Linked DNA regions of Homo sapiens: region 2 is linked to region 1. The links come from fine-mapping of genetic effects on gene expression. A gene starts in region 1. The other region holds a variant in brackets. All regions are shown on one strand. Distances are from middle to middle. Region 1 holds the start of RGS7BP (regulator of G protein signaling 7 binding protein). Region 2 overlaps RGS7BP (regulator of G protein signaling 7 binding protein).

What was found. PIP is the estimated chance that this variant, and not a neighbour inherited with it, causes the effect. A credible set is the group of variants that fine-mapping cannot tell apart.
Region 2: its variant is the best candidate, but not a certain one, in a credible set for the expression of RGS7BP in nasal epithelium (TOPMed, PIP 0.62).

The regions. Positions count from the first base shown.
Region 1 is chr5:64,503,410-64,508,789 of GRCh38, reverse strand. It overlaps RGS7BP (regulator of G protein signaling 7 binding protein), which reads right to left and starts at 2,775. Exons shown (of 6, transcript NM_001029875.3): 1 at 2,001-2,775; 2 at 913-1,079. The coding sequence starts at 2,165.
Region 2 is chr5:64,533,199-64,538,578 of GRCh38, reverse strand. The region is part of intron 2 of RGS7BP (regulator of G protein signaling 7 binding protein); the gene reads right to left. Among named protein-coding and RNA genes, the nearest start is that of RGS7BP, 30 kb to the right of the region's middle. The variant C/G (reference allele first, on the strand shown) is at 2,611.

The DNA.
Region 1 (5,380 bases):
TGAGTCTAATTTGAACTTCTGCTGCGATAAAGCTATACTCACATAGATAAACAGGTAAATACTATATCCAGACTGAACAAAGCACTTAAATTAATGTATTGATGTATTTGTATAAGGATTCCTGTGTTTCCTTGCTCTAAGTACTTATCTTGAAAATAGGAACTGTTAACAAAATCCATGGCTAACTTTTTCCCCAATATTAAGAGATGAAAGAAAGTGTAGGTAGGGTCCCAAGAGAGAAGTTTTCACATACTGAATTATCTCCTAATACAGGCTAGAAAAACGATAAATCTGATGAAAATAAATAAAAATTTGGGGGACAAAATCATGTTAGGTTTATTGAGATATGTGAATTTCCCCAATCTTTAAAAACTGTTCTTATGCTAAAACTTACCCCTTCCTATCACCACAGTGAAGAGAGTAATTTATATCTAAGACCTTATTTTAGGGATTTTATTTTAGGCGGTATCATAGGAATTTATCTCATGGTATAAATAGTTTAGTAAATCTGGGATTTGGGAAAGAGTTTTTCTCTACAGCACAGGCCTTTTGTTCAGCAGCAGATGACAAAATAATTTTGAGGCAAGATGATTTAACTTCAGTTTGATGTCCAGCCATCCACCCCAAATCTTATGCTCCAAATTCCAGAATGTGGCCAGAGTATTGAAAATTAAGTTTTTAAAAAATCATTTGATCCAAATCTTCTAAATATATATACATATATGCAAGAATGACACAGCCTTCAAATTATGGTTTGGCCTATAGTTTGTGTATAGCTCTCTAGAGAATTTCGATCTTAAGGTTAAAATCTCAAATATGTGGAGATCATGTCTGAGGACTTGACTACCATAAAATTCTGTCAGCATCCATGCATCATGTATATGGATTACCAAATAATGCCGAGTCTCCTACCCTGAGATGGCAGCCAATTTTTGGTGTGCCTGACGGGCCATTTCACAGCCTTTGGTTCTTGTCTTGTGCATTTCCGCCCGGAGTGAGGGGCAGCTGACCGAGACATCCCCAATAGAAATGACCAGCTCTCGGTACAGGGCCACTTGTGTGTTGAACTCTTGGACAAGCTGGAAAAGAAGTGAGTTTTTTTTTTTTTACCAAACATTTCTCATCAGAAAGTTTCCTGTTTCGGAGTACATAAACAGGGGCTTTCACTGACCCCTGAGTCAGCTCCCCAGATCTCCAGCTAAGGAACCTAGGAATTGTTTAAAGCAGAAGGCACCAAAATGGCAAGTCTCTTTGTCCAAGGCAAGTATTTATTTCCATAGGCAAGCCTGGCCATGGAAGCTCTATTTCCAGACCTACTTCCCCTCACCCTTTCAGACTCAGTTTCTGAAGAGCAAGAGAGCATATTTGGAGCGCTACCATGCCACTCCCAGGCCAACAGAGAATGATGCTGGGGACTCCTACATAGACGGTCCCCTCTCCTACTGCTAGGACATGGCTTTTAAGTTGCACGGCGGGAGGGGCGGGGGAGGCGACAGGTAGGGTGTAATAGGCAAACCATTCACCTTTTGCTGGGCCACTGAACCTCTCGGCCTGACGGCCTGACGGGAAGACCAGCTACAGCCTCTGCGCTGGAACCTTCGACCCCTCCGCAGCGCCCCGTGCGCTGTATTTGGGTTTGTTTGCTACTCTGTCCCCAGAAAGCAGCATCCCCACCTCCTCATCCCTCCCTCCTCCGTGAGCGAGCCAGTTCACTGTGTCTTTCGCATCCACCATTCTTCGAGGGGGTACAGGCACAACCTACAGCCGCTGATCCCCAAGACCCTTGCTGTCACACTTCTTTCTGCAGGGTTATTACGACCAGGGTGTCACCCTGAATTTGGGGGACTGCAGATTTAAAAATAGTGCATGTGCCACGTGATCGGCATTGAGGAGCTGAGGGTGGGGGAGTGGCTGGCACTCAGGCAAATGATTAACATACATGACTCCCCCCACCCCCTCTCAATTAAAAAAAAAAAAAAAGAGGCGCAGTTTTCACCCACCATCTTGCAGTCGTCCAGGGCTCGTTGGGTTTTGTGGGCGCTCTCGGAGCCGCTGCCCCTGCGCTCCCAATCTCCGCTCTGCAGCGGGGGCTTGCTGATCTGGAAGATCGAGGAGCGGGTGGACCGGCTGGGGCGCTTTTTGCGCCCATTCGGTGCAGAACTCATGCATACACATCCACCAAGCCGAAGCCGCTGGTGCAGTGCGCCCCGGCGCGGGCGGCCCGGTTGTTGCCCTGGGCGCCGCCGCCAAGCAGCCGGAGCCCGGACCTGAGGCGCGCAGCTCACAGTGCTGGGGCTGGCTGCGCGGGTCGGTAACCTTCAGCTTGAAGGAGAGCCGGGGAAGCGCTAGCTGTGCCGTGCAGCATCGCTTCCACTAGCAGCGAGGAAGGAGCGCGATCAAGTTCTGCTCAGCAGCATTGCCGACCCTGTCCCGGGAGCTGGGCGCTGGCGCGGGCTCGCACTGCCTTCCTCTCGGCATGGATTGCAAGGCTGGGCGAGAAGGAACGCGCCGCCCGGCGGTTCCGAGTTTCCATTCAGGTGGGGGAGCAGCTTTCAAAGCCTGCGCTGCAAGGTGGGGGGCGGAAAGGGGTGTCGCTCTTGCTTCAGTGTCTTCCCGCAGCGGCACTCGGTTCGTCTTTCCCCTCCCTCCACTGTCGCCAGGCCTGGAAGGACTGGCCGTCCCCAAAGCAAGCAATTGGCTCTAATCGGCTGCCTTGATCCCTCGTCTCTAAGGGCTTGTCTGTTTGAAGATCCCAGATGAATCTGTGGCGGGACTGGCAGACGCAGAGAATCGGTCCGGCTGACGTTGTTCGCGGGCCCGCACATTGATAGGACGGGAATACTAATGTGATCTGTCCATGCAACCCCCTTCCCCCTCCACAGTTTATGCACTTATCCAATCAAATCCCCGGGAACATCAATTGCAATATTACTTCATCTGCTCTATTATTAGAAACGAAAAGTGTCATCAGAGTGGAGCACATGCCACATGCTGGGACCTAAACATGGATTTCAAATAAGCCAGTGTGGGCTTGAGGCCCTCACCAACTGAGACTGAGACAGGGGCCACAGGAGGGAGTGAGGTTTTGCTCCAAATGGAAGACCTCTTGATAACCTAAAAGGAGAGCTTTGTTTCCCTGAGTTGTTTTGTTTTTATTTTGTCCTTGTTCATGGAGGGGGAAAGAGGAGAGCCAGTGAGGCAGAATGCACAGAGGCATTCACTCAGATTGGGCCTCATCCCCATCCCATTTCAAGTAGTAAAGCTCTTGGTCTTGCATTGCAGGGTCTCAGGACTCAGCTCCTAGAGTTCCCTTCCGGAGACTTGAACAAATAAGAGCCAAGAGATCTCCCTGGACACTCAAAATGACCTTCTTCTCACTTATGGGATATCAGTAACCCAGAGGCCAACAGAGGTGGCCCAGAAAATCGGGGATGATTCTTGTGTGAAAGGAGTGGGGGTGAGGCCCTCAGCCATTTAAGTTCACCCTTCCCACTGACATCTTCCTAAGGTTCTTCTGGGAGGAAGAGAGAGTGTTGTGGCATTCAACTCTAAGGCTCTAAGGATGCTTGTTCTCCTGAATGATTTGTTTGGAGAGGGAGATAAAGGGGTCTCCCATAGGAAAACTAGTTATGTATTAGTAATCCTAATAAGAACAGATTAGAGGTTCCTGGTCAGTCTGTTAAAGGGATATGGAGAGTACATAGAAAGAGAAAGCCTGAAATAGCCAGGAAGGTTAATATCCTAAGGAGGGTGGCTTTACAACCTTTTCTACAAGACAAGTAAATATAATGGGGTACTATAATAAGAGAGTTATTTGGTCTTTGTCCCCAGTCCCTAGGGCAGAACTCCTAAAACCCTTAGAAATTGCCTGAGTTATTATGATAAGCCATCTTGTCACCAGAAAGACCAAGCCTTGATTAGTTGCTTGCAACTTTCAGCCTCATCCCCCAATCTCAGGGGATAGGAGAGGAGCTAGTGACTGCGTTCCTCACCAATGGCCAATTATTTAATCAATCATGCCTACATAAAGAAACCTCTGTAAAACTCCTAAACAACAATAGAGTGTGGGGAGCTTCTGGGTTGTGGAAGACATCTAGGTGCTGGAAGGGTGGTACACCAGGAAAGAGCATGGAAGTTCCATGTCCTTTTCCCATACCTTGCCCTATGTTTCTCTTCCAGTTGGCTGCTCCTCAGTTGTATCCTTTAGAATAGACTGCTAATAGTAAGTAAAGCTCTTTCCTGAGTGCTGTGAGTCATTCTAGTGAATTACCAAATCTGAGAAGGTGGTTATAGGAACCCCTGAATTTGTCGCCAAGATGGAGAGAAGAGTTGGTAACCTGTGGATCCCATACTTGTGACTGGCCTCTGAGATGAGGGCAGTCTTGTGGGACTGAGCCCTTAAACCTGTAAATCTGACGTTAACTCTGGGTAGTTAGTGCCAGAAATGAGTTGTAGGCCACCTAATTGGTGTTAGAGAGTTGGAGAAGTGCTATTGGAAAAGACATCATGTATTTGGGTGGGAAGGAAAAAAAACCTAACAGATGGATCACTGAGTGGATATTTGGCTACATTTTTTTTTTTTCTGAGTCAGGGTCTTGCTCCGTCACCCAGATTGGAATTTAGTGACACCATGAGAGCTCACTTCAGCCTCAACTTCCTGGGCTCAGGTGATCCTCCCACTTCAGCCTCCCAAGTAGTTGAGACTACAGGCACATGCCACCTAATATTTTGTAAAGACAGAGTTTTGCCATGTTGCCCAGGCTGGTCTTGAACTCCTGAGCTCAAGTAATCCACACACCTTCACCTGCCAAAGTGCTGGGATTACAGGTGTGAGCCACTGCGCCTGACCAGAACTTCACACAAGCTTGAGAGTGAGTTTTCCCTATCAAAGACTAGAGAAAGGAGGCATCAGCTCTCAGGCCCAGACCTTGGTGTGCTGCTATCCTCCAGGTGTTTAGATGTCCCAGAGACTGAGAGAAAGGGCTCTTCTGCTGGTTGAATCTCCCCAAATATAAGAAGATAACAGGTTAGTGCTTAGTCAGCTCCCTGACCCTTTCTCTTTCCTGCAATCTCAATTACCTCCCCTCCCTTCCTCCCTCCCTCCTTTTTTTCCTTCCTTCCTTCCCTCCTTCCTTCCTTCCTTCCTTCCTTCCTTCCTTCCTTTTTTCCTTCCTTCCTTCCTCTCTCTCTTCCTTCTCTCTCTCTTTCTTTCATTCTTTTGTTCATTCGTTCATTCTACGGAGTCTCACTCTGTTTCCCAGGCTGTAGTGCAGACTTCTGAGTAGTTCCACAGACATGCCTGAGTTGGCCGCTCCTGAGTTGTATTCTTTAGAATAGACTGGTAATAGTAAGAAAAGCTCTTTCCTGAGTGCTGTGTCAT
Region 2 (5,380 bases), 30 kb before region 1:
TCTCAAAAAAAAAAAAAAAAAAAAAAAAAAAAGAAAAGGAAAAAAAAAAAGAAAAGAAAAGGAAAAAAAAAAAGAAAAGAAAAGGAAAAAAAATGGCTACATGCTTCTGATTTAGCTTAGATGATATTTTGACAAAGACAAAACAAAGGCAAAACAAAGACAAAATAGTAGGAACAAAATACAGATCAGAGTTTGCCGGGGCTATGAAAAGGGGAAGGGATTGACTATGAAGTGGCAACATGAGAGAATGTTTTGGGGGTGATGGAACTCTTCTGTATCTTGATGTTGGTAGTGGTTATACAACTCTACACATTTGTCAAAACTCATAGAAATGTACAACAAAAAATGAATTTTATTGTGTGTAAGTTAAGCCAATTTTTAAAATTAGGGAGACAGAAAAAAGTTAAAGATTGTTTTATAAAAGCATTCATATCTTTGATAATAATATTAATTAAAATTAGCTATGTATATGGTTTCCACTAAGTAGGTAAAATAATGCATACTTCTTAGGTTTATCAACTTTAAAATTCATAAATCCATAAGAAAACAAGTTAAAGAAGAGGTTAAAAAAAGAGCTTTCTATTTACTTGGATGAAACATTAGTTCTGTCTAGGGTTATGAGTTCTTTCCTCTTTCTTTCCTGTCTTTTCCACTCTTCCCAGTGTTCCCATGTGGCTGCCTGCAGATTTTTAGCACTAAGAGAAGTTTGTCATATGGATCTTCATTTATCAGGCTTTGAATAGCATAATGGAATGCTTTTAGCAGCATAGCAGAGCAGGCAGAGATATTCTTCATATGACAGACTCTTCCCTGGATCATCAATGAAAGTCAAGAGTCTAACACTAAAATCATGTCTCTGTGAAGGAATTTCTATCATAATCTAAAGCAAAATGGTCCATGATGTAGCTTTCTGGGGCTCTGTCTTGATCCAGGAATAGAACTTAGAGAAACTCACATTCCTAGGCTCTTTCTCTTGAATACCATGATTTTAGCCAAGTTTCTGGGGAGAGGTAAAGCTTAGAGAGCCCAAAGTGAACATCCCTAGCAGGTACAGTAAAAACTCTCCTACCCAGTTTACCAAGACAGGTAATTGGGTGGTTAAAAATTCAACGCTAACTATATATCTTAAACTTATTTTAAATTGAGACACATAATTATACATTGACCTACCAGTCTTCTGGTGATAGCCTAAACCAAGCTTGTAACCCGCGGACAAGGGCTACAAGTGACCCAGGAAGGCTTTGAATGTGGCCCAACACAAATTTGTAAACTTTCTTAAAACATTATGAGATTTATTTTTGCGATTTTTATTTTTAGCTCATCAGCTATCATTAGTGTTAATATTTTGTGTGTGGCCCAAGAGAATTCTTTCAACATGGCCCAGGGAAGCCAAAAGATTGGACACCCCTGGACTAAGACCTTCTCTTTGAGTATGAATCCACTGGTTGGAGTTCTTCATCTGGCAAGAACCATACTCATTATACATCATCTCCACTTGATCTTAGCCAAAAGGCTGAGAAGCGACACATAAAACATCATCTCCAATTTCCAGTTTTAATTTCTTTAAAGTCTAGAAGAAACTTGAAGATACTTGCAATGCACACCTAGTGCAGAATCATTCTGGAATTTTATGATTATTTGTCACAGTCTTTTATAGTTACCTTGGCCACACCAAATTTGATAGCATTTTTTTTTCTTACTAGCTCATCAAATTAATTTTTATGTTAACAGCTCTTTTTTCCCTCCTATTTCATCAAATCACCTAATCAAAATGTGGCAAAAACAGGTTTGGAAACCAGCATAGCTGACTCTTGGTAAGCATACAACTGAATGGGTGGGTCAGAAGTCCATATCTGGTACTAGAAGTAGCTTGCTAAACAAGGCATTAGTCAATAGGTTTCACAGAGGGAATGGAAAGTTTCCCTTAATCCAGTGACTCACGTAAGTGAAGGTCAGTTAAAAGAATACCTTTAGCACCTGAAATGTAGGTATTCTATGTTATTGATACATTTTGTTTTGAAAGTAATGTCTGTGATTTGCACACTGAATTGCAGGGATACATGTAAATAGGATGAAGATTTTCATCCTATAAGAACAACTATTACTGTTACTAAAGGTATTTGGATTTTTTATTGTGAACGCGTGCGACAATAAACACCATAAGGAACATAATCACCCTAGTTAACATAATTTCTTTTTCTTTATGCTCCCTGACCTGAGATATCTGATGCTCATTGGATTTCTCACATAGTCCCTCTCAGAATTTCCCATATGCTCTCCACTTCCTCACTGTACTCACAAGCTCTTGCTCCCAGTTGAAGTTTGTCTACAGAAATCAGAAATATCTTCCCTTTACTGGTACGGCTATGGGCTTCTGTCTTCAAACTCAGCCCTGCCCCAATATCATGAGCTACTTTTTGTCTGTTCCTTGATGTTTAATGAGGATATTACCTACCCAAAGAGACTTCTGGACTTCAGTTCTGAAAGTCCTGCTACACAGGGCAAGACTACTGTATTTTGACTTTGAGAGTGACAAATTATCCTTCTGTGCAAAATACAGACTTAAATTGGCACCTGTAGAGTAATTTATTTCCATCACAATTGTACCCC[C/G]AAGGGCTTGTCTACATAGACACCCCAGACAACTAAGTCTTTTCAAGACTTTCTGTGTTACCCATTTTGATTCCCAAGACTTTCTTCCAATAAAGTAGATTTTTACCTTTTTCAAAGCTGATATTAAGCTGCTCCTTTGACAATAACTGGCCAAATATTCCGTTGCTTCTTGAGGTCATAATCTAAAAGATATTGGCAGGACCATTTAATCTCCATAAAGGAGGATGTATGTCTTCCTGTCTGCTATGGAAGGAGAGTGAAAATCTAGTTCAGCTAAAAGCTATTTGAATTTATTCAGGTTTTAAGTTGAATAGGAATGTGAGAAAGTGTTACTTTGTGCTACTTAAAATTGAAGCTCTCTATGTTGGATAACCTTTCCTGTCATTTAATAATCAACCTTTCTTTCTTTCTTTATAGGCATTTTAAGGGGATCATATATTTTTCTCTTTGATTATTTATGATGGTTAGCTGAAGAGGTGGGGCTGGGAGGGAGCATCTTTCCAGAAGTTATTCCTGCATGGGGTGAGAGCAGAGCTAATCCTCTCCTTAGCATTCATTCATGTTTCAAGTTTCTTGTAGCCATTAGGTCAAACACGGGATGCACTGAGTATATTTAAGCTGAGATCAGGCATCTAGTGTATACACTTGTTCTTTAAGAAGAAAAATGTGCATACTTTAATAGATCTGTATATTCAGAGGTCTAGATCAGGATAGGGAATAAGTACATGTTTCCATGAAGAGCAGAAGCTCTTGGTAGATGGGCCAATAGCCACTGCCTCCACGTCCTCACATCTCACTTTCTCTTCAGCCCTCCAATCCAGACTTCTGTTCCCAGTGCTCCTCTGGCTGCTCATGTCAAGGTCACCAAGAACCTCTCTCACAAAATTCACTGGTCCCTCTGTCCTTATCTTACTGGACATTTCAGCAGCATTGGCAAAACTGTCTCACCTTCCATCTGAGACAGTTTTTCTCTTGACACCCAGGGCCCTATCACCCTAAATCCCTGGCCCCTACTCAGTCGCCTTTGCTGGATCTTCCTTTTCTTCCTAGGTTTTAAGAGAGCACCTCAGTGCCCAGCCCCTAGCTCTCCTTTGTTTTCTATCTACATCATCTCCCTACATGAACTCATCCAGTCCGAAAGTTTTAAATACCACCTCTATGCCAGTGCCTTCCATATTTAAATTTATAGCCCTGACCTTTCTTTTGAGCTCCAGATTTGTCCTAATGGACATTATCTTTTAATGGGTATTAATGGATGCTGAAAGGAATCACCAAGTTATTATGTTCAAACACAGCTTTTGATTTTTTGCTCTCTCATCTGCCAAAGGGTACCTCACCTAGACCTCCCTGTTTCATGGCACAGCACCACCATCAAATCAGTTACTCAGACCGACTTGTTTCTGATTCTCCCCTTTCCCTCATCCTCATCACTGCCCCTCCAAGCTGCAACCCTTCTGCAAATTCTGCTGGTCTTACCTCTAAACAGTTGCTTACCTCTAAAACAAGCAACTATTACCCAAGGGACGAATTCCTCTATTGCCCTGTACAGTCTTTTCTTACACATCTTAAAAACATAAATCTCATCCTCCAGTGGCTTTTCACTGCATTTTAAATCAAATCCACTCTTTCTTGTGACCTAGCGAGGCCCTGACAGGCTGGTTGCTAACTCCTTCCTGACCTTGTCTTGTCCTGCTTTCCTGCCTCTCACCACACTCCAGTCTGTCAGGCTCTGGAACTAGCCAAGTTCGTTCCTGCCTCAGGGTCTTTGCATTCACTCCTCCTTCTGCCTGGCATGCTCTGCCCCAGATCTTCGCATGGCTGGCTCCTTTACCATTCAGATCTCACCCCAAATGTCATCTTCCCAAAAAGGACTTTCCTGGGTACCTGAATCAGCTGCTCTTTTCCTCCACCCACAGATGCAGCACACTTGCTCTCATATTATCCTTTTTCTATTACTGTCCTTATACACATCCCACTTTTGTAATAATCTTGTTTATTTATTTGCTTTCTTATTTATCATATGTCCCCTCTGGCAGAAATAAATTTCACAAGTGTAAGTCATGTCTGCTTTATTTCCTGGGGTATCCCCAGTGCCTGGTACATAGTAGGTACTCAATACATCTTTGTTGAAGGAATAATTGTAGAATAAATAGTTGTAGCTTAGAAATAGACATGAGGTGGGGAGGGAGAAGGTTGGCATAACGTTTAAACTTCTAACGGAGTTTTACTTCACTGTATCAAAATACAAAGAGGCATAAAGCTTTGAATGTATGTGAAATTGTTGTTAAAATCTGGGTCTCTTGTACATACTTTATTTATGGAAGAAAAATATGAGGTGATGATCTTTATGTTTAATTCCTCATCCTGCCACTTTCTAGGGCAGGGGTTCATAACTTTTTTTGTCCATTGGGATCACCTCAGGGGCAGGGCTTCGATCCCACCCCCCAGGTGGTCCCAATTGATGTGGGTCGTGGCCTGAGCATTAGGAGTTTTAAAGATTTACAGGTGATTTTAGTATGCAGAAAAACTTAAGAACTCGTGTTCTGGGAGATATTTATGGAACTCATGAAATATGCTTTCCAAAGCTCATGTAGTCTGGGAAATAGAGCCATTTACCTGAAGATCTAGCATTAGAGTCTTCAAAGCTTCTTATTCATTAGTATAGACAGGGACAGGGCCTAACTCATTCTGGCTGAGTTTGAGTATCACCAACCACATCAGTCTCTCTCAGCTCTAGATGTTTCAGGAGCAAAGAGAAGAGAATTTCTGA